Linked DNA regions of Homo sapiens. The protein of the gene in region 4 interacts with the protein of the main gene of each other region in a pairwise test. Each region holds a gene or a part of one and is shown on either strand. Other genes may lie near its edges. The genes, in order: QPCTL, ITM2C, SUSD3, OLFM4, CLEC7A, CLSTN3 and SLC18A1.

Region 1 (3,500 bases), on a different chromosome or scaffold from region 4:
GCTACTCGGGAGGCTGAGGCAGGAGAATGGCTTGAACCTGGGAGGTGGAGGTTGCAGTGAGCCAAGATCATGCCACTGCACTCCAGTCTCAGTGACAGAGCGAGACTCCATCTCAAAAAAAAAAAAAAAAAAAAGATGGGGTCTCCCTATGTGGCCCAGACTGGTGGATGAGCCTTTAGAGTGTAGGTGCCTGTCCTACCCCAGCCCACCGCCCTGTACCCCATACCCCAGGTGGGCTGGGGCCCACCTCCGCATTCACCCTTACCAATGCTCCTCAGCCGATGGAACCAGCGGACCGTGCGAGGGAAGTGGCTGTAGAAGGTGGGATTGGGGGCTCCCAGGAGATCAAGAAGCATAAAGAGCTCCTAAGGAGAAAGGCTAGGACTGGAGGGGCCCGTGCAGGATGACGCCAGCCCTGCTTAACCTGCTCCCTCCCTCGCCAGAAGCCAGGGGACCCTGGTCTTACAATAGCCTGGATCCTGGTGGGGCCGGGGCTGTGAGGTATAGACTCCATGAGCTGGGCCAGGTGCCGGGAACCGTAAAGGGAGTCCTTGGGTCCCCACTCCTTCAGCGCCTCTTCACCATCCAAGAAGAGCAGTTGCAGGGTCACCGGGGCTGCCTGTGGGAGCAGCAGGGGGGTGGCCAGAGCCAGCTCAGGACTAGCCCTCAGCCTCAACATACCCACACTTCTTGCCCGCTTGCATGCTTAAGAGAACACATAAGGTGTCCTCACTCATAGAACGTGGTAGCCAAGAGCACAGATTCCGAGTCAGTTGTCTGGGATCAAATCCGTACTTGGCTGCTTCATAACAAAGCAGGCATGGGGAAGTTACTAACTTCTGGAAGGATCAGTTTCTTCATCTATAAATGGGGTTAATAAGAGGTTTTTTGTTTTTTTTTTGTTTTTTGTTTTTTTTAGAATAAATCTTGCTCTGTCACCCAGGCTGGAGTGGAATGATGCAATCTTGACTCACTGCAACCTCCACCCCCTACCTCCCAGGTTCAAGAGATTCTCCTGCCTCAGCCTCCCATACAGCTGTGACCACAGGTTCCCGCTATCATGCCTGGCTAATTTTTGTATTTTTAGTAGAGACAAGCTTTCACCATGTTGGCCAGGCTGGTCTCGAACTCCTGACCTCAAATGATCCACCTACCTCAGCCTCCCAAAGTGCTGGGATTACAGATGTGAGCCACCGCGCCCGGCAATAACAGTTCTTTTCAAAGGGTAAGGTTTGAATCCAGGTCTTAGAACAGTGCCTGGCATATAACTAAATAAGGGTTATCTCTGATTATTATTCCTCAAGCTCAGTTTGGTGAACCAGATAGATCCACAAATGAATAATTATACAAACAGTGAAATGCAGTTGAGACAAATGCTTCTAAGAACTATAGAGTCCTGAGAGGGCATAGGAAGGAGGCTGGGGGATGACCTGGCCTGGAGAGGGCGTTGGGTCTTTTGGGAAGGGATGTTTGCCATGAGAATGGGTAGGAACTGGCCTGGCAAAATGGAGCAGGAGGAAGAGTATTCCCAGCCAAGGGAGCAACACAGGGCAAGGCTATGGCCAGGGAAGGGGTCCCAGAGGTTTGAGAGGGGTACGGAAGGTTTAGCAAGGGCCAAGGAGTGTGGGCTTTGTTATAGGGACACTGGGGAGGCACAGAGAGGGGTTAAGCAGGGCAGGAGCATGATTAAATCTGTGTTTTTCTTTTCTTTTCTTTTTTTTCTTTCTTTTTTTTTTTTTTGAGACGGAGTCTCGCTGTATCGCCCAGGCTGGCGTACAGTGGCGCGATCTCGGCTCACTGCAAACTCTGCCTCCCGAGTTCACGCCATTCTCCTGCCTCAGCCTCCCAAGTAGCTGGGACTACAGGCGCCCGCCACCACGCCCAGCTAACTTTTTGTATTTTTAGTAGAGACGGGGTTTCACTGTGTTAGCCAGGATGGTCTCAATCTCCTGACCTCACGATCCACCTGCCTTGGCCTCCCAAAGTGCTGGGATTACAGGTGTGAGCCACCGCACCTGGCCTGTGTTTTTCTTTTCTGTTTGTTTTGAGACAGAATCTCGCTCTGTCATCCAGGCTGGAGTGCAGTGGTGCGATCTCGGCTCACTGCAACCTCCGCCTCTCAGTTTCAAGTGATCCTCCTGTCTCAACCTCCCAAGTAGTAGGATTACAGGTATGTACCACCATACCCAGCTAATTTTTGTATTTTTAGTAGAGATGAGGTTTCCCTGTTGGACAAGCTGGGCTCGAACTTCTGACCTCAAATGATCTGCCTGCCTCGGCCTCCCAAAGTGCTGGGATTACAGGTGCGAGTTACCACGCCCGGCCGGGAAGGCCTCTTTGAAGGGGTGACATTGGAGTGGACACCTGAGTGAAGAGTGGGAGCCAGCCAGGAAGATATCTATGAAAAGCATATTCTTTTTTTTTTTTTTAAGAGACAAGGTCTCTGTCACCCAGGCTAGAATACAGTGGCACGATCATGGCTCACTGCAGTCTCAAACTCCTAGACTCAAGCCATCCTCCCCTCTCAGCCTCCCAAGTAGCATGCCACTACTCCCAGATAATTTTTTTTTTTTTTTGAGATGGAGTCTCGCTCTGTTGCCCAGGCTGGAGTGCAGTGGTGCAACTTTGGCTCACTGCAACCTCCGCCTCCCGGGTTCAAGCAATTCTCTGCTTCAGCCTCCCGAGTAGCTGGGGTTACAGGTGTGCACCACCAAGCCTGGCTAATTTTTGTGTTTTTGGTAGAGATGGGGTTTCATCATGTTGGCCAGGCTGGTCTTGAACTCCTGACCTTGTGATCCACCCACCTCAACCTCCCAAAGTGCTGGGATTCCAAGTGTGAGCCACGGAGCCTGGCCAGAAAAGCACATTCTATCCAAAGCAAACAGCAAGTGCAGATGCCCTGAGGTGGGAGCAAGCTCTGCGGGTTTGAGGAACCCAGAGGAGGTGGGGGTGGCTACAGCAGAGTGAGCAAGAGGTGAGGGGTGGGAGATGAGGCTGGAGAGGTAACAGGGCACAGCTCGTGGGCCAATATAAGGACTCTGGATTATGGCTGGAATGAGGCGGGAGCCCTGGGAGGGTTTGGGGGAGAGGAAAGAGAATCTGACATCTAGAAGGTAAAAAGATCCCTGTGATGACCAGGCGCGGTGGCTCACGCCTGTAATCCCAGCACTTTGAGAGGCCGAGGTGGGCAGATCACCTGAGGTTGGGAGGAGAATTGCTTGAACCCAGTAGGCAGAGGTTGCGGGGAGCCAAGATCTCGCCATGTGCACTCCATCCTGGGGAACAAGAGCGAAACTCCGTCTCAAAAAAAAAAAAAAGATCCCTGTGGCTCTGTGCGTGGAGTAGAGTGGGAAGACGAGAGGGATGACAAATGTCCAGGCAAGGGAGGGTGGGGGCTTGGGAAAAGGTGGAGGTAGCCCACTACCCTCCCCGACTCCTGCTCCTCACCTGTTTTTTGGCCCTGCTCAGCTCCAGGTCAAGTGCTTGGGCCAGCTCCAGCA
Region 2 (2,403 bases), on a different chromosome or scaffold from region 4:
GGATATCCAGGAAGGGCGATGGCACTTGTCCGAGGCTGGATGTGGAGGTAACCGTGATAGGGGCACAAGACTCTTAACAGTGTTGCCTCCAGCTCCACCTCCCCACCCGCCGTGTTAGGCCCCTCCAGGTCTGCAGGCCAGGACAGCAGGTGACAGGAAAGGCAGTCGTGCACAGGCGTAGGTGCCCAACTCTTAGGTTCGTCCTTGACCCCCTGCCAACCCCAGGCTCTTTCTCTGGTGTCTGCACCTCTGTGGAGGGCACGGAGGTGGCCAGGTCCTAGTCCTGCTGGGCCACCCCTTTTCCCAGTCACCGACTCAAGGACTTGGAGGCCAGAAGGGACCTTAGGGATCATCATGCTTTACTGATGGGGAAACTGAGGCCCAGAGAGGTCTGCCACCTAGAACCTGGCAGACCCAGCTCATCCTCCCTTCCGTTTGTGAAGCTGGGAAGCGCCTTGCCCAAGAATCAGCTCATCTCCTCACTGGCAGCCCCAGACCCTGACCTGATGCCCCACCGTCTCAGTTTCTCCATCTGCGAAATGGGTCTCACAGTCCCTGCTCTTCTTGCTTCCGCAGGCTTTTGGGGCATGTAGCGGACGGGTAGGCAAGAGGGGGCCTTACGGAGTGCGTGTATGACCAGCCTCTCTGACTGTCTGTCTGTCTCTCCGCCTTGCTCAGCTGGCCCGAGATAACTTCTTCCGCTGTGGTGTGCTGTATGAGGACTCCCTGTCCTCCCAGGTCCGGACTCAGATGGAGCTGGAAGAGGATGTGAAAATCTACCTCGACGAGAACTACGAGCGCATCAACGTGCCTGTGCCCCAGTTTGGCGGCGGTGACCCTGCAGACATCATCCATGACTTCCAGCGGGTGAGGCTGGCCAGGGCCTGGGGGTGGGGGGTGGGAGGGTGTCCCGGGGACTCAGGGCAAGGGGAGCAGGGATGAAAGGAGACTCCTCGGAGTACAGCAGGTGTCTACGGTTAGGCTTACCAGGGTCTTCAAGACACTGCTTTTCTCCTGTTAGCAACAATGGTTCTTGCTGAGTATGAAGCAGCCGAGGCTGATTTTCTCCTCAGCCTCCTGCCAGCTGCACGCTGGCTGTCATGGCAGGGCCAGTGCGTTGTATCGAGGGGTAGTACATTCACCATCGAGTGCATTGCGTGTACAGCTCAGCGGGTCTCTGCAGAGTGGGTCTCATGCGTATTCATGTAACCCCCATGGGTCCTGAGACAGGGCATCTCTCGCTGGGGTCCAGGCTGTCCCAGGAATGGCTGGCCCTCACAGGTTTCATAAATGCACAGCTGGGATGTTACCATGTTCCCCAAACCTCAGCTCTGTAAACATGAGAAGAAGCTTTATAACAACAGAGGCGTTTAGCAATCAGCTGCTATTTTCCTCTATCATGTGGCACCTTCTACAACAGGCTAAGAGAAGACCAGGAAAAGGGAGTGCCCGCCCAGGTATTGAGGAGTCTGGAGAGGACTCTGCTCCTGAAGGCCCAGGGTCCCAGGAAGGCATGGTGGGACTCCTGCCCCTGCTGGCCAAGCTGCTTTTTTTTTTGGAGACAGAGTCTCGCTCTGTCGCCCAGGCTGGAGTGCAGTGGCACGATCTCGGCTCACTGCAAGCTCCGCCTCCTGGGTTCACACCATTCTCCCGCCTCAGCCCCCCGAGTAGCTGGGACTACAGGTGCCCACCACCACGCCTGGCAAATTTTTTGTATTTTTAGTAGAGACGGGGTTTCACCATGTTAGTCAGGATGGTCTCGATCTCCTGACCTTTGATCCGCCCGCCTCAGCCTCCCAAAGTGCTGGGATTACAGGCATGAGCCACCGCGCCTGGCTGGCCAAAGCTTCTTGCAGCCCTGCCTGGGTCAGCTGTCACCTCCTGCAGAGACTGACCCAACCCCTTCTCCTGCCAGGGTCTGACTGCGTACCATGATATCTCCCTGGACAAGTGCTATGTCATCGAACTCAACACCACCATTGTGCTGCCCCCTCGCAACTTCTGGGAGCTCCTCATGAACGTGAAGGTGCGCAGGGGGTTGGGGGGATGTCTGCAGCATCCTGTCCCTCCCTTGCCCCCTGTCTCATGGAGGCTAGGTCTGAGGTACAGGAAGTTCCTGTGTCAGGGGTTGGGGGAGCAAGAGACATTGCTGGCACCTGGGCCCTGTACCCAGATTGGTCTCGCCTCTGCTATCCCCCTGCTTCCACATCTCCAGAGTCAATGCCCCGAGACCGGCTTCCTTAGTGTTCAAGGTTGTACCCTGGGTACGGACTCGTGCGCATGCCATTGCTCCTGGCAGCACAGGTGCAGGCACCGGGCACAGGCAGGAAGTGCCTGAGGACATCAGAAGGGCCAGCCCAGGGGCCTCTGGAGGAGGGAGGTGGGCTGGCATTTCGGGCGAGG
Region 3 (2,933 bases), on a different chromosome or scaffold from region 4:
CAGAGCTCCTCCATTGCCCCACCTGTGATCCCCACTCCCCATTACAGCACTGGGACCAGATCATCCTGTGTCATAACTGGGAAAGTGCCCATGGAATGGGGGAAGGAACAATTGCCTCTCAAGGCAACATGGTGTCCAGGATGATGGCAGCCACAGCTGCTGCCGCTGCCGCAGGGGCTTTGCTGGCCAGAGCATGATGCCGAGGGGCTCCCAGGGGTGCTGTTTGGGGCCACACTTCTGCCTGGTCCCAGCGCCACAGACCCTGCCTCTTACACTGCGGGAACTTGTGCAGTGTGTGGTCGGACGTGTGCGTCCCGTCCAAGAGTGGCCACAGATCTGTGTACAGGGCTGTGTTCACCCCCTCTGGGGAGTGAGAGAGCCAGGGCGGGAGGGAGGCACCCTGACAGGGCCGTGAGAGGCTGGAGGAGGCCGGCTTAGGGGCCACTCTGACAGTCAGCTCAAGAGGCAGGAAGTGGTGGTGAGGCTGAGGGGGATTGGGAGGGGGACCCTTAGGGCAGAGCCCCTTCCCGGAGCTCTCTCACACATGGAGACCTCGAGCACTCAGCCCAGCTTCATGGGGACTCAGAGAAGGCGGGTCCTGCCCAGGGCTACAAAGCCGATGGAGGCAGAGTTCCCTGAGTCCCCAGCCCTGGGCCCCGGGCTCCCAGGCAGGATCCTCGGGATATGCCTGTGCTGGGGCTGCCCACCCCTCAGGCAGGGCCCAGGCTGCCTCCATAGGTGGTAAATTGCCTTTAGCAAGGTGAGGTTTGCCTCTTGACCTTGTTTTTATTTCATAAGTACTTCTCAGCACTTGCAATGTGCCAGGCACTGTTCTGAACTCTTCCAAATATTAACTCTTTTCACCTAGGGGTGGGTACTACTTTTATCCCGTTTTCCAGGTGAAGAACTAGGCAGGTTAAGAAACTTGTGTAGACTCCCACACAACCAGTAAGTGAGGCTGGGTGGAGTCAGTCTGGCTCCTGCCTCCCCGAAGCTGCCTTTCGTCTCCACCAGTTATTGATGCTTTCACTTACTCATTGCATAAGCAGATCATTTCTTAATTCCTACTACTTACTAGAGTTTTTCTGAGAATTAGTTGTGGGTGGGAGCCGTGATCCAGGAAGGCTTCCTGGAAGAGGTGATGCCGGAAGTGAAAGGACTAAGAGAGCCTGCTTTGGGAGGGGAGAGAGACAGCCTCTGAGGGGAGGAGAGGACATGCAAAGGGCTGGAGGTGGGAGCCGCCAGGCAGCCCACATGGAGCAGAGGCCAGTGTGTGTGTGGAGGCTGGAGATGGGACAGGGCCAGGGTCTGGTCAGCCTGGGGAATGGCTTGGTTTGTATCTGGGGGAGTAGAGAGCCACAAGAGTACTGAGGGTGGAGCAGGTGGGTGATCCAGCTCCTGGCTACCAAAGAGGCAGGCCTGGCAGGAGGGAAGATGTCCTCCCCTTGACCTCCTGCTCCCCAGCATCCCTTCTCTGCCTGGGACATCCCAGGCCCTGGCCAGACAGCTGGGTTCCTGGTGGTTTCTGCACACTCTGAATGAGCCCCAGGAAGTCCCTTCCCACACCTTAGGGGGGCAAGTGTCTGACTCCTGGGCCACGCCCTGGTTGTGTAGATGAAGGACCCACTTGCCAACAGGGCCCGGCAGGGAGATGGAGTGACCTCTGTGCACCTTAGGGTGCAGGGCAGCTCCCAGCAGGAGGAAACGGGCTCCCCAGTGCTCAGGGCAGCAGTTGCCCCAGGCCCACTGGAGGGCCTGGGTACCTGGGAAGGTATGGAGTTGGGGATTAAACCCTATCCACACTCTTTTGCCAACTCATGCCTCCTCTCTCCACAGAGACCATGGTGAGAGCACCAGCAAGCTGGCCAGTGTGACCCGCAGCGTGGACAAGGACCCTGGGATCCCCAGAGCTCTAAGCCTCAGTGGCTCCTCCAGCTCACCCCAAGCCCAGGTGATGGTGCACATGGCAAACCCCAGACAGCCCCTGCCTGCCTCTGGGCTGGCCACAGGAATGCCACAACAGCCCGCAGCATATGCCCTAGGGTGACCACGCAGTGAGGCTGGTGCCCATGCTCCACACTGGGAGGCCAGGCTGACCCCACCAGCCAGTCAGCTACAACTCCACATCAACTCCACATGCGCCCAGCTCGAGACTGATGAGTGGAATCAGCTTCCAGGTGTAGGGACCCCTTGAGGGGCCGAGCTGACATCCAAGGCTGAGGACCCCAGTGGGGAGTGTTCTGTTCCGGCATATCCTGGCCGTAACGATTTTTATAGTTATGGACTACTTGAAACCACTACTGAGGGTAATTTACTAGCTGTGGCCTCCCACTAACTAGCATTCCTTTAAAGAGACTGGGAAATGTTTTAAGCAAATCTAGTTTTGTATAATAAAATAAGAAAATAGCAATAAACTTCTTTTCAGCAACTACAGAAAACTACCTCAGCATCTTCCTCCACAGGATGTACTGCTTCCAAGCAAGGACCCATGGAGGGTTCTGCATCTGTTGTCTGTAAAAGTGCAGTTGAGGGGTATGAAGTAAAACTAAATAATTATTTCTTTTTTTTTTGAGACAGAGTCTCACTCTGTCGCCCAGGTTGGAGTGCAGTGGTGCAATCTCTGCTCACTGCAAGCTCCGCTTCCAGGTTCAAGCGATTCTCCTGCCTCAGCCTCCTGAGTAGCTGGGACTACAGGTGCCCACCACCACGCCCACCTAATTTTTTGTATTTTTAGTAGAGATGGGGTTTCACCGTGTTAGCCAGGATGTCTCGATCTCCTGACCTTGTGATCCACCTGCTTCGGCCTCCCAAAGTGCAGGGATTACAGGCGTGAGCCACCGTGCCCAGCTAAATAATTATTTCTAATACTGAAAAATACAAAGGTAACAGTGGTTGGTTGATGTTAGAGTCAGCAGAGGAGACTTCCCTTTTTT
Region 4 (3,500 bases):
TAATCTTATTTTTTTTTGGTGTATAGTAGGTGTATGTATTAATGGGGTACATGAGATACCCTGAGACAGGCATGCAATGCGTAATAATCACATCATGGAAAATGGAGTGTCCATCCCCTCAAGCATTTATCTTTTGTGTTACAAACCATCCAATTAGACTCTTTTACTTATTTTAAAATGTACAATGAAATTATTATGGACTATAGTCACCCTGTTGTGCTGTTGAATACTAGGTCTTATTTATTCTTTCTAACTACTTTTATTTTTTACCCTTTAACTATCCCCACTTCCATCCTCACCCTCCATCTCTTTCTTGATGGTTATCTTCTATTGTCTCAGCAGGAACATTACATTTGATGTGTCCAATATTAGACAAAAATTGAAGGCTTCCCTGGGAATTTGAATCAAGACTAATAGGTTTCTCAGCCTTGGTAAAAACACTGACTTGAACTCTGATTACTGTTTTTTTCTTTAGCCAGAGGAAGTTATCTTAAAGGGTTTGCCTTTCTCTGGGCTGGCTGGAGCAATGTGACTTGGTGTTCTAGTTTTGACTCCTTCCACCTTTTCAGCCCAAGTTAAAAATCAATTAGAAAAGTTCCTATTTTCTGCACAGGTGAAGTCCAAGCTAGTCTATAATCACATTATGCATTATTTAATACAACTCCATTAATTTACAAGGAGCTCTGGCTTTACTGCAAGATTCAGAATAAGTTTTCCTAAGAAATTTGAGCTTTGCCACCTCAACATCCAACATAGTTATCCTTTAAAACAAAAATTATGATGAGGCTGAGACCCTACTTTCAGCCTGAATTGGTAGATAAATATTCTAAGTTTAAATGAGTGTCCAGGAAAATGTGTTTGACTACTCTAGAAACCTAGCTGCTTAAGAAATATAATGTCCTTGAATTAATCAGTGGAAAAGGCACAGCATTAAATTATAAATTCTAACCATTAATATTCATAGCCTTATTCCAGCATAATCAAGTACAGATAAGAAGTTATGCATAAAAACATAACAAGTAGAGGAAAATCCTAGGTAAAGATCTTTTCAGTTAGAGTCATTTGCTTTGAAATAGTGGAAACTACTGATTTACATGTTGTCTTTGCTGGCAGCAGTGTGAAAGGCAGTTTGAAACCTTATGTGCTCCAGGGAGAGTATGTGGCTTGCCAGGTTTGTGAATATGGGACATTTAATTCCAATACTGTACGGGGGGCTGGTAACATCTGCTTTGCTAATGACAGATAGGGAAGAAGTGCAGAATAGGTGGGAAAGTTTTAGTTCTGAATGTGTCGGTGGCTGCTCTGATCCCAAAAAAACTGTGATTGTGGCCTAAGAAAAAAGTTTATCTGCTAGCTAGGATTTATATAATCGATTTAGTGTGACAGGTGATAATAACAACAATAATAGTAGCAGTTTGTTTGTGCTTTTTCAAATGCTTCCAGTTCTATTCTCTCCTCTCAAGTAACCCTTTAAGGCAGATAGGCCAGGTGTTGTCTCTCCCATTTTAGAGACAGTAAAACTGCAGTTCATAAAGGTAAGGAGACTTGCCCAAGGTCATTCCTCTCTTGGCTGGTTAAGCCAGGTCAGAATTCGAGTCTTCAAAATCATCTCAACTCTCTTTCCTCTTGGCCATGCTGTTAGCATCCTCCAAGGTAGGCCCAGGAAGAGATGCAGTAGTAATGCCTTCAAATCCAAAGTTATCCCTTTAGCTGAGGGCTTTCGAATTTCCAAGTGAGTTATTACAGCTGTCCCTAGGTTGCCTTGAAAATTGTCATTTATCCGGGGGCCTGGGAGAATGCCCGTTTAGGACAGGCCAGTAGAAAAGGTTTTTGACTGCCTTACATTGATTCATTGTCTGTCAGTACACAGAGAAGACAGGGAGCTGCCTCTGCATAAGATGCTGAAAGCATTTTATACTTTTCTGTTGTTTACGGTATGTCCTTTTGTGACTATACTTAGGAAAGGGATGGCACAAAAGGCAGCTCAGGATTTTCTCTTTCTCTGGAGGCTTATGGTCTTTGGCATGAGTTATTTAATATGACACATTTGCTAGTAGATCCTCATGCACGGGAAGGTTGAGGCAGCCTAGGAGACATTAAGGCAACCCATAAAGAAATAACATTGATTGAGCCGTATTTGTATAGTGAAATATAATAAATTAAAAGGTCAGATTGGAAAATGCTGAAATTACTGTTTCTCTATTAATTTCTATAATTCATAGGGCCTCCATTAACTAGGCACTTAACGTACATTATCTCTAGTCTTTATGATAATCTTGTAAGCTCAGTATCATTACCCCCAGTTTACAGGAAACTAAGGGTTAAAGAAATTAAGTGATTTGCCCACTAAGTACTGAAGTTAGATTTGAGTCTAGTTGGGTCTAGCTCCAAAGTACTTTATATGTCTTTACAATCACTCCAGGCTCAATGAACCCTGTTACGTTTACTTTGAAACATATATTGAAAATAGTAGTATGTTGCAAAGTAAACGTACTTATTTCAAATAGTCTGGCCATAGTTATAATCACAGGTTTTGAGAGACTGGCAGAAACATGAACCAGATTAATTCTTTAGCTTGCTAGCACTACACCCTTATTTATTACAAGACCACATTAATTATAAGGAACAATAACAGGCACCCTCAAATCAACGCTCACACAAATTTTATTCCTCATCAATGATATAGTATGTGCATAACAAGCAAAATAAAATGGAAGCTGTGAATGTTAGGCTGGTGGCTTAAAGGCTCAACTAAAACATAGATGAGCCATCTAGTGCTCAGACTTGTCATGATGAGGAGCTTCGAGATAAAGATGTTGACACAGGACGTGTCTCCTCAAGGCTAGACCCATATTCTTGATAGAATGTTTAGCAGCGTCCCTGGTCTTTAGATGCCAATAGCACTCGCCCACCCCCCAGTTATGAGAACCAGGACAAAATCACCACCACTACCGCCCTCCCTCCATTTAGAACCACTTTTCTAGATCAAAATACAGCCATAGGTCAGCTAAAGACAGGGACATGTTCTGATAAATGCATCGTTAGGTGATTTTAACATTGGTGAACGTCATTGTATACTTACACAAACCTAGAGGGTGTAGCCAACTACACACTCAGGCTATATGATATAGCCTATTGCCAGGCTACAAACCTGTACAGCCTGTGACTGTACTGAATAATGTAGGCAATTATAATACAATGGTAAGTTTTTGTGTGTGCATATATATCTAAACATAGAAAAGGTACAGTAAAAATATGATATTTATAATCTCATGGGACCACTGTCATATATGCAGTCTGTCATAGACAAAAATGTTATGCAGCAAATGACTGTATTTTCCAGAAGAAGAAAAAAATGCAGAAAGTGCCCCAAGTGCCAGATGTGGGACTGGAGGCTCCCAGGCAGGCTGGGCTGCCTCTCCCAAGACTGCACCTCCCAGGAGGAGCTGACATGTGGTCAGCATTGTCCACGCATTCCCAAAGCTACAGATTCATATATG
Region 5 (3,500 bases), on a different chromosome or scaffold from region 4:
ATTTTTTTTACATTTTATATCACATGCAATCTGTTGTCAGTCACCTTCAGAGAGTCTTCATGACATTCCTTAATTAGTCAAATGTTTATTGAGTGCGTTCTATGTTATAGGTACTGGGCAGTTTCTCAAGGATCTCTCATTTTTAAATAACAGAAGAAAGGTGAAAGATGTTGCTATTTCAAATCTGTCATGGGTCCAATTGACTCTATGACATTTGCCTCTTGCTGCCTCCCTCATTCTATTTCTTCTTCTCCACCTTCTTTTTTCTTTTCTTTTTTTTTTTTTACTATACCTCCTTTATAAAAGTTATGTATTTCTTTTCATCTATTCTATCAATCGTCTTTATCTCTCCACAGCAATATATCATCTATTTATCATTAATCAATAATGTATTCTTTTATTCCAATAACATTTGGGTTTTGGGATTTTAATTTTCAAACACAGCAGAATGACATTTTTTCTGTCACTATTATTATTGTTGGTATGTGAAGCTATTTGGAGATCCAATTCAGGAAGCAACACATTGGAGAATGGCTACTTTCTATCAAGAAATAAAGAGAACCACAGTCAACCCACACAATCATCTTTAGAAGACAGTGTGACTCCTACCAAAGCTGTCAAAACCACAGGCAAGGGCATAGTTAAAGGACGGAATCTTGACTCAAGAGGGTTAATTCTTGGTGCTGAAGCCTGGGGCAGGGGTGTAAAGAAAAACACTTAGATTCAATGATTGTAAATTTAAGGCAAATACACATATTAGTATTACCTTAGTGTAATGTATCCCTGTCATATATACAATAAGGTGAAATTATAAGTACCCTATGCAGTTGGCTGGACAGTTCTAAATTGGACTTTATTAATTTTTAAAATCAGTAACTGATTTATCACTGGCTATGTGCTTAGATCTACAGGAGATCATATAATTTGATACAAATAAAAGAAAAGTGTTCTCTCCCCTTACAGAATTGACATTTTAAATGCGATACAGTTAGAATAGGAAATATGACATTAGAAAGGAAGAATGACAGGGAGAAAGGAAAGAAGGGAAAATGTTGCCAAGAATAAGGAAGCTATATTAAAAATATACAAAAGAGGTAGACCTAATACACATGTCCCTGAAAACTCATCAAATTTGTTTAATCATACAATTTCATTTACTTAATTACAATTCTATACACACTTGACTTTTACTTCTAATTGCATCATAATTGACTATGACTTAATGTTTTCAGTTCAATTTTTCATCTCTGGACCCATACCTTCTCACTATTTTTATTAAGTAGCTAATAATATATAACAGAGATAGTGTATAATATGAATAATTGGCCTATACTTTTCTCACTTGGAAAGTCACATTATGAAGTAGATCTTACATCATAAAATAAGTAGCAATATGAAATTGCTGTGTACCTCAATGACTGATTGTGAGTGGACTTATTTTAAGGAGTTATTAAGGAGAAAGGTAGTTTTGAGCTGAATTAGAAGGAATAGAAGACAAGTGAAGAAAAAAAGGATGGTTGGCTGCCTAAAATACTATTTATAGCTAGTTTGTTTTTAAATTTTAAATGAATAGGAAGATTTTAATGTATTCTCATCTGTAAAATCATATCCCTGTAGTTCGAATTGACAATGAAATATAAAAATGGCAACTAATTGGTTATTTCATAAGTGTCCTTAAGATGAATGGTGTTCACACTAAAAGAGTGAATTGGTATGCTATGAACCTCATGGTACTAATCTTTTATTTCCAGGGGTTCTTTCCAGCCCTTGTCCTCCTAATTGGATTATATATGAGAAGAGCTGTTATCTATTCAGCATGTCACTAAATTCCTGGGATGGAAGTAAAAGACAATGCTGGCAACTGGGCTCTAATCTCCTAAAGATAGACAGCTCAAATGAATTGGTAAGTGTAGACTTCTGTTATGATTATCTGTGGTGTGTATCCTGAAGGAAGATAGAGGGAGATTCCAGGTAATGACAATTTTTCCTAAAATGAAGTCTTTTTTTTTTTTTTTTTTTGAGGCAGAGTCTCACTCTGTTGCCCAAGCTAGAGTGCAGTGAAGCCGCGACATCCCAGGCTCAAGTGATCCTCCCACCTCAGCTTCCTGAGTAGGTAGGACTACAGGGTGCACCACCACACTCGTCTAATGTTTTTTTGTATTTTTCATAGAGACGAGGTTTCTCCATATCATCTGGGCTGGTCTCAAAATCCTGGGCACAAGCGATCTGCCTACCTCGATCTCCCAGTGTTGGGATTACAGGTGTAAGCCACCATACTTGGCCAAAATTCATTTTTAATATCTCTATAATTATAATCATAGCATGCCTTAAGCACATAAAGTGCATAGTATATGCTTTTATTTTTAACTAATTTAAAAAACTGTGTTTCGCCTTAAAACAAATCCTTTCAAACATACTCCATGTATGCATGACTACAATAATCAGGACACTACCCATTTTTGTGAGTTTGTATTTCAATTTTTAAATATGGTGGAAGTAAAGTAGAAAATTCTTCTCCTTGTCATCATAATTATCAAGAAAAATGGCAACAATGATAATATATGTTTAGAAATTATTTACTCTTTGCAAGATACTGGGAAAGGCAAAGAGGGTTAAAACATAACCCTGCTATCACAGGACACATATAATCTTTTAAGTAAAAAAAAAGCAACTCAGCAGCTATTAAAAGTTAAATATCTGGCATTAGCAATAAATTCTATAGGAGTTTAAAGAGATCCCCGTGTTCCTAAGAAGTTTTCAGAAAAAGTGGCACTTATAACACATCATGAATGAAGGGTAGAGCTTCAATGAGGTAAGATAAGGGGTTAATAGGAAAAATTCTATGTTATAAATCTAAACCAGTCTATAACTTCTACACCTACTTTCACTATTCTTATTTTGTTTTTGTTTCTGTAATGTCTTACCCAGTAGTAATAATTTATATTAAAGTTAATGGAACTAGATATATGGCAAAGAAAGAGTACTGGATTACAAGTCTATCTGACTTTTAGGCCAGCCTATAATTGAAAATAAATTGTTATAGATTTGTAAACAATTCAGATATCTTCACTGAACCTCAGATTACATATTCATAAAATATACAGTTGGACTAAATTATTTTTAAGTTGTTACCTAACTCTGAGAAGTACTTCTTAACGAAAGTAGCGTCAATTTATTTCTTCAATTGGAGGAGAAGACAATGGCTAATCATCCATGAAAACTGCCTAGGGGGACTGTCATCTGGGATTTTGTCAGATAGGTTGAATGGAGGCAGTACAGTCCTCACATTACAAATCTATTCTTTTGGAAAATTAAATGATAATTACTTTAAATAAATAAGATAGGCCTTTTGAGACATTCAATGACATTCAAAAATTGGCACTTCTCTCTAGGTTGATGTCAGGTTAGGCATGCATTCTTTTTTTTTTTTTTGAGACGGAGTCTCGCTCTGTCGCCCAGGCCGGACTGCGGACTGCAGTGGCGCAATCTCGGCTCACTGC
Region 6 (2,537 bases), on a different chromosome or scaffold from region 4:
AGGGTAAACTGGAACAGTCAGGGGAGATTTTGTGGCACATGTAGAGTTTGCATTTGGACCTGAACTGTAAAAGGGATTTTTGGATGGGTGTGAGAGAGAATGGGAATTTGAGAACCGGGGGTAGATAGGTGGTTAAGAGTGTTTATGGTTAGAGAGAATAAGGTTGGTTGAGAAGAGCAAGCCGGATGATGAGGGTATTATGTATCTACTCATATCAAATTTTGATGACTGCCAGAATCACCTGGGGAGCTTTAAAAACTCTCGGCACCTAAATTATACCCTAGAATGTCTAGGGGGTGGGAGCCACGTGTCAGTGGTTTTTAAAAATCCCATGTAATCTTTAAAAGTTTGGGAATAATTTTCCTCTTTTGTTTCCTACAAGTATCTGAAGCTTTGCAGAAAGAGTTACAAAGCAATAGGACAAAAAGAAAATGAATGAGGAAGTAAGGAGGAACAGGTAATGATGAAATAAGGATCCAATGAAGCCAGGGAATAAAGTCAGCTCATAACATGCGTACTATGAGATGCTATGCAGTTGCTACCACGGGCCAGAATTTTGACCCTGAGCTTCTTCAAAGCTAAAGCAAAAGGAAACCTGAGCAGTTCTGAGAGCCGTGATAGGAGCCAAACGCTATTTCATGAAAAGCCCTGGGAGTGCGGGGGGCAGAAAGAAATCTCTCCCAAGGCTCTTTGCAAAGAGAGCACCGTGTGGGGCCATGGACAGGGCTTTCCACTGTCCTCGCAATCCCATGGACCATTTGCTAAGTCACCCCTTAATGTTGGCTCTGGAGGTCATTCAAGGCCAGAATTAACTGCTCAGATCTCATGTAGCAAGAAAAGCTGAACGCACTTCTTAAATTCTTGATTTTTATCTGTAGCTGATTTAAAAATCCTCCCATCTCCCCGGGCTCCTGACTCATCTTAAACTAATTAACCAGACTTGTTTGCTTGTAGATAGAGTGTCTGCATTTTGTCTTTCCTGTGGTCATTTCTTATTGTCCTGGCAATCAACTTGTCATTTCCTTCATTAGGCCAGGAGCTCGGAGGGACACTGCATTGATTAGGGCGCAAACCAGCTTTAGCTCGTCATCGTTGTGTGCTTAGAGGAAGTTCACCTGCTTTGGCCTCCACTCTGAGGGTGGGGTCACCACCCCTTCTGGAGCCTGGGCTTAGCCACTGGGCCCATCTGCCAGTGAAGGCACTGCCCCTGGCTCTGGTCTGTTGACGTGGAGACCTGAGAGACACTATTTCCTGCAGATGGGCAGGAGAGACAGCTCTGTCCCCTCCTCCCTTATCCCCCGTTCCCAGGAAGTTGAGAAATACTGATCCAGCCAGTCCTGTCTTCACCTTGGAACCAGTGTCGAGGGAGTGTGCCCCAGCAGAGTCCGTTCTAATTGGCTGGTGGCCTCAAGTGGGCTGTGGGTCAGGATGGGGACCAACTTGGCAGACAGCCATCAGGGTGGCCTCAGGGAGGTGTGTGGCCTGCCCAGGCAGGGCATTCTCCACACACCTAGTTGGCCCTGGAGTGCGTGGCAGCTGAGTGTGCTGGCTGCTGGGGAGAGGGGCGCTGCAGCAGGGTGTGGGTGTGAGTGTGAGGAGCTCCTGGGCCATGCGCTTCCCTACGCTCTGCTCTGTCTGTTGACACATGAGTCTCAGGCTGTAGGTAATTTGCGGACGGGGCTGGAATGCGATGTGTGTATTTTTCTAGGGGCTTGCTTGTGTGACTGCTGGTCTCTGTGTGTGTTTGGGGCACACATACATGGAATAGTCCCTCAGCAACGGGACCGCCCAGGGAGGAGCTGCTGTGTATGCATGGTGGGCAGGGGTGTGCACCCATGTGGGGAGTAGTGACCCAGCTGCCCGTAAGGGCCCTGGGCCTGGAGGTGCGTGTGTGGGGTCTCTGCCTCCACCTGCTGTCCCTGGGGCTGCGGGCTTTCCTGCTTTTCTTCCTTGTGCTTCTTCGAGAGCTGTGTGTGTGTGTGCAGGAGGCAGGCAGGGCTGTGCTCATGGCGGCTCGCTCTGTGGCCCTCACGGCCCACGTCTGTAGTGTCTATGTCTTCCTTCAGGGGGTTGCCTGGTCTGCCCAGCTGGTGGGGAGCTGGGTGATGCTGCACATATGGCTCTACCGTGCCTTGCTGGAGACCCCCAGACGCGTTCCTTTACTCCCGCAGTGTGAGCAGGCGGCCAGGTGGCTGGTGTGGGCCAGCATGCAGGCTGGCAAAGGCCTGGCTCGGGTGTGGGGCGTGGCAACCTTTGTGCAGCTGTGTGCCCACACGGTCTTCCTGAGCATGTACCTGTGCATGCACATCTGCTTTGCCGCCATCAGCTCTAAGGTCCGTGTGAGAGTGAACGCACCGTTCTGTGTCTCAGTGCCCTTGAAGGTCCATGCCCCTCTGAGCCTGGGCATCAAAGTGGGGCTGCAGGGCCAGAAGCATGGGAGAGCCACGGGGGAGGCAGGTATGCCTCAGGGGGAGATGTTGGGGAAGCAGGAACCCCAGACGTCCCGGAGCCCCAAGCCCACCAGGAGAAGGGAGGTG
Region 7 (3,500 bases), on a different chromosome or scaffold from region 4:
CACACACACACACACACACACACACACAATTATAATCTTAAATCTTAAACATCGTGGTACATCGTGTTTTCTTTATAAAAGAGAAAAAGAAGTTCAGAAGTGTTAAGTGACTTGCCCAAGGCCTCTCCACTAGCAGGTGCCAGAGTTGGGATTCAAACCCTGTCCAGGGGTCCCAGAGCTGAGGCTCCTCTGACCACCCTGCCCTTCCTCCTCCCATCCCCTCCTGTGGCCAGGTCTGTGTGAGAGCTGGACATGTCTGTGAAATGTCGTGGTAGCTCAGTGTGTGTTGGTTTGGGGGGTTACATGTCAATCTAAGTGAGTAGGAGAGTTAGCCAATGTGGAAACCATGAACAATGAGGACTAACTGTATAAGGTCAGAATTTAGCTACTTTAGCTAATAGGATAACTTGGGCAGGCACAGTCTTTTAGTAGGTTTTAACCATGCCACTCCAGATACCAGCCTTGGGCATAAGGCTGAACCTCATCATAGTCCCCTGATCCTAGTAGTGGTAAGATGACATCTGTCCTTAGCCCCCATCACCTGTCCTCCTTGACTTTCAGTAGAATTGACATCTGTCCTTAGCCCCTTGAGTTTCAGTGGTAAGATGACATCGGTCCTTAGCCCCCATCACCTGTCCTCTTTGACTTTCAGTGCCAATTGTGCCCACCTTCCTATATGACATGGAGTTCAAAGAAGTCAACTCTTCTCTGCACCTCGGCCATGCCGGAAGTTCCCCACATGCCCTCGCCTCTCCTGCCTTTTCCACCATCTTCTCCTTCTTCAACAACAACACCGTGGCTGTTGAAGAAAGCGTACCTAGTGGAATAGCATGGATGAATGACACTGCCAGCACCATCCCACCTCCAGCCACTGAAGCCATCTCAGCTCATAAAAACAACTGCTTGCAAGGCACAGGTTTCTTGGAGGAAGAGATTACCCGGGTCGGGGTTCTGTTTGCTTCAAAGGCTGTGATGCAACTTCTGGTCAACCCATTCGTGGGCCCTCTCACCAACAGGTATCTCACTGGGTGCAGTGCCCCGCAGGGTACACAGGAGTAGGAGGACTAGAAAAGTATAGAAAGGGGGTTGGAAGGGAAAAAGAAGAAATACTCACTTGTATGATTCCTCAGGGGAGTCAGCTATTCGGAAAGCTCGTTACTCAAAGAATAACATGTTACTGATGAAATGTTATGGGATCAGATTTTCTTAGTGATATATTGAGTATTGAGTACCAAGAAGAGAACCATGAACAGCAGTGTGCTGTGATGTTCTATCAGTGACCTGGAGCATGGCTTGAATGGGAAAAGGGTATGAATGGGACAGTCCTGTTGTAATCTAGAGCACTGGCTTCCCAGGAGTTGTATTGACGATTATTCTGATATTTTCAAGAGATATACACTCCACCTAGGCTATCATTTCTGGAAATGAGAATTTTGGCCCTGATCTATGGTCATATCTGCATGTTTGTTTGTTTGCTCATACTCATCCACATGCCCTATTTCATCTCCACACTACATTCAGAGGCATGTTTTACCATACACCCAAATAGCTGCATTTCTGCTCCCACTTACATTTAAAAATGTAGTCCATGTATGTGAGTGCCTGTTGGAATTGTATCTTTTTTTTTTTCAATTCCCTTTTAGGATTGGATATCATATCCCCATGTTTGCTGGCTTTGTTATCATGTTTCTCTCCACAGTTAGTAAGTAATTTGCTTCCTCTTTTCTTCCCTTCACTGATTACCTTTGATTTTATCAAGTGAATGCGGTGTAGATAGCAGGGTAACCTAGAATGTAATTAGGCATCTGACTAAGCAGACTGGAATATTGGTTTAAATGCTCTGCTGTTTTTGGTATGTGGACTAGAACAGTAGTGACAATTCAGTCTAGTTGGAATTGGTCTATTCTGCTATAGAAGAACAGATATTTTATTCACTTCACTTCAGCTGGACATAATGAGAGCTGTTTGAATATGTATGCTACGGGGTGTGTGTGTGTGTGTGTGTGTGTGTGTGTTATATGCATCAGTAATCCCTTGAGCAAGTTTAATACAAACTTTCCATCTATGAGAAGCAATGATATTATTTTGTTATGCCATGGAAAAGGGCAACTCACAAAAAAATGGAAATTGGACAATAACATCTGGAAAATTCCAAAAAGCCTACTGCTTTTCAGTTAAGGGCTTTAAAGGTTAAGCTTAGAAAAGTAAATTTGCTAAAGAAACAAGAAAGAGAAAGACAAATACTCTATCCAGGATCAGCTAAATGTTTCTAATAAAATGGAGATGGGATAAACACAGTACATGAGAAAAGTAAGTCTGGAAATTGATGCTGAGAAGTAAAGGAAGAAGGAATGAAAAGGGTTAGCGTTAGCAGGTTAAGGCAGGGGAAGGCAGCCTGTGGATCCAGCCTTGGTTCCCGATGGCCCTGCTGAACCTCTGCTCTCCAACAACACACCTCCTTCTCCCTCGCGTTTTTCTTTTCTTTTCTTTTCTTTTTAATTATACTTTAAGTTCTAGGGTACACGTGCACAACGTGCAGGTTTGTTACGTATGTATACATGTGCCATGTTGGAGTACTGCACCCATTAACTCATCATTTACATTAGGTATATCTCCTAATGCTATCCCTCCCCTCTCCCCCGACTCCATGACAGGCCCCGGTGTGTGAAGTTCCCCTTCCGGTGTCCATGTGTTCTCTGTTCAATTCCCACCTATGAGTGAGAACATGCCTCTCATTTTTCTTATTACCTTTCTGTTCCTTGTCTACTTTCTGTCTTCCTCTTCCTCAACTTTTCTTCTTTCCCAGCACAGAACTTGATTCCTAGCAACCCAATATTTAACAAGAATTTGTTGCATTCTGGGCTGGAAGGCTGCAAACTGCAAGAACTTGAGATGTGAGGTTGTCTCTGAGAACTACGTCTTGTTTGTGAAATTTTAGTGGACTTGAAGAAAATGAAGAAATTCAAATTAGCACTGTTCATGGAACTTCTAGCAGTTCAGCCTAAGTTAGACAGCAAATTTAAAAATAATAAGATGCCAGGTGCCCTATTTCATCAAATGAGGCTTAAGATTTATTCCAAACAACTTTATGCAGTGCATGTATAATGCCCAGATGGCCATAGTCACATAAAGAATGAAAAGACATGATTCCAGCTATCAGAAGTGTATATGATGGTTGCCTGGGGAGACATGAGACACACACTGAGAAGTAAGACAATGCGGTGTGCTAGTGGATCTGAGACGTTTTAGCATGATATCCTTGCCTGATTCTCTGCCAAGAATTCATGTGTTAAAAGCTTTACTTTTAAAGTAAACTGTATATGTTAAGTAATTATTGTTTAACTTATACCAAACTATATATGTTAAATAATTATTATTTCCATAGGATAGCTGTGTTGCTATATGGAGTTGGCCTAATTCTAACCAAAAGAAAATACATTTGATGTTTAGGGTATCCTTGTCCAATGTTCTAAAAAATACTTAAAAGAGATTGTTGATGC

The links.
Region 1: the proteins of OLFM4 (region 4) and QPCTL interact in binary tests that used the Homo sapiens proteins (3 or more experiments, as listed by UniProt).
Region 2: the proteins of OLFM4 (region 4) and ITM2C interact in binary tests that used the Homo sapiens proteins (3 or more experiments, as listed by UniProt).
Region 3: the proteins of OLFM4 (region 4) and SUSD3 interact in binary tests that used the Homo sapiens proteins (3 or more experiments, as listed by UniProt).
Region 5: the proteins of OLFM4 (region 4) and CLEC7A interact in binary tests that used the Homo sapiens proteins (3 or more experiments, as listed by UniProt).
Region 6: the proteins of OLFM4 (region 4) and CLSTN3 interact in binary tests that used the Homo sapiens proteins (3 or more experiments, as listed by UniProt).
Region 7: the proteins of OLFM4 (region 4) and SLC18A1 interact in binary tests that used the Homo sapiens proteins (3 or more experiments, as listed by UniProt).

The regions. Positions count from the first base shown.
Region 1 is NC_000019.10:45,695,666-45,699,165, reverse strand, and holds part of QPCTL (glutaminyl-peptide cyclotransferase-like protein), read right to left. Parts: coding exon 3,448-3,500; intron 624-3,447; coding exon of another isoform or gene 620-623; coding exon 467-619; intron 385-466; coding exon of another isoform or gene 379-384; exon of another isoform or gene 366-378; coding exon 266-365; intron 1-265. UniProt on the Homo sapiens protein: Responsible for the biosynthesis of pyroglutamyl peptides.
Region 2 is NC_000002.12:230,874,942-230,877,344, forward strand, and holds part of ITM2C (integral membrane protein 2C), read left to right. Parts: intron 1-678; coding exon 679-867; intron 868-1,915; coding exon 1,916-2,026; intron 2,027-2,403. UniProt on the Homo sapiens protein: Negative regulator of amyloid-beta peptide production. May inhibit the processing of APP by blocking its access to alpha- and beta-secretase.
Region 3 is NC_000009.12:93,082,701-93,085,633, forward strand, and holds the end of SUSD3 (sushi domain-containing protein 3), read left to right. Parts: intron 1-1,836; coding exon 1,837-2,047; 3' UTR 2,048-2,433; downstream 2,434-2,933. UniProt on the Homo sapiens protein: May play a role in breast tumorigenesis by promoting estrogen-dependent cell proliferation, cell-cell interactions and migration.
Region 4 is NC_000013.11:53,035,313-53,038,812, forward strand, and holds part of OLFM4 (olfactomedin-4 precursor), read left to right. Parts: intron 1-3,500. UniProt on the Homo sapiens protein: May promote proliferation of pancreatic cancer cells by favoring the transition from the S to G2/M phase. In myeloid leukemic cell lines, inhibits cell growth and induces cell differentiation and apoptosis.
Region 5 is NC_000012.12:10,123,700-10,127,199, reverse strand, and holds part of CLEC7A (C-type lectin domain family 7 member A), read left to right. Parts: intron 1-491; coding exon 492-629; intron 630-1,751; coding exon 1,752-1,903; intron 1,904-2,026; coding exon of another isoform or gene 2,027-2,113; intron 2,114-3,500.
Region 6 is NC_000012.12:7,154,371-7,156,907, forward strand, and holds part of CLSTN3 (calsyntenin-3 precursor), read left to right. Parts: intron 1-2,537. UniProt on the Homo sapiens protein: Postsynaptic adhesion molecule that binds to presynaptic neurexins to mediate both excitatory and inhibitory synapse formation.
Region 7 is NC_000008.11:20,176,637-20,180,136, reverse strand, and holds part of SLC18A1 (chromaffin granule amine transporter), read left to right. Parts: intron 1-652; coding exon 653-1,016; intron 1,017-1,643; coding exon 1,644-1,702; intron 1,703-3,500.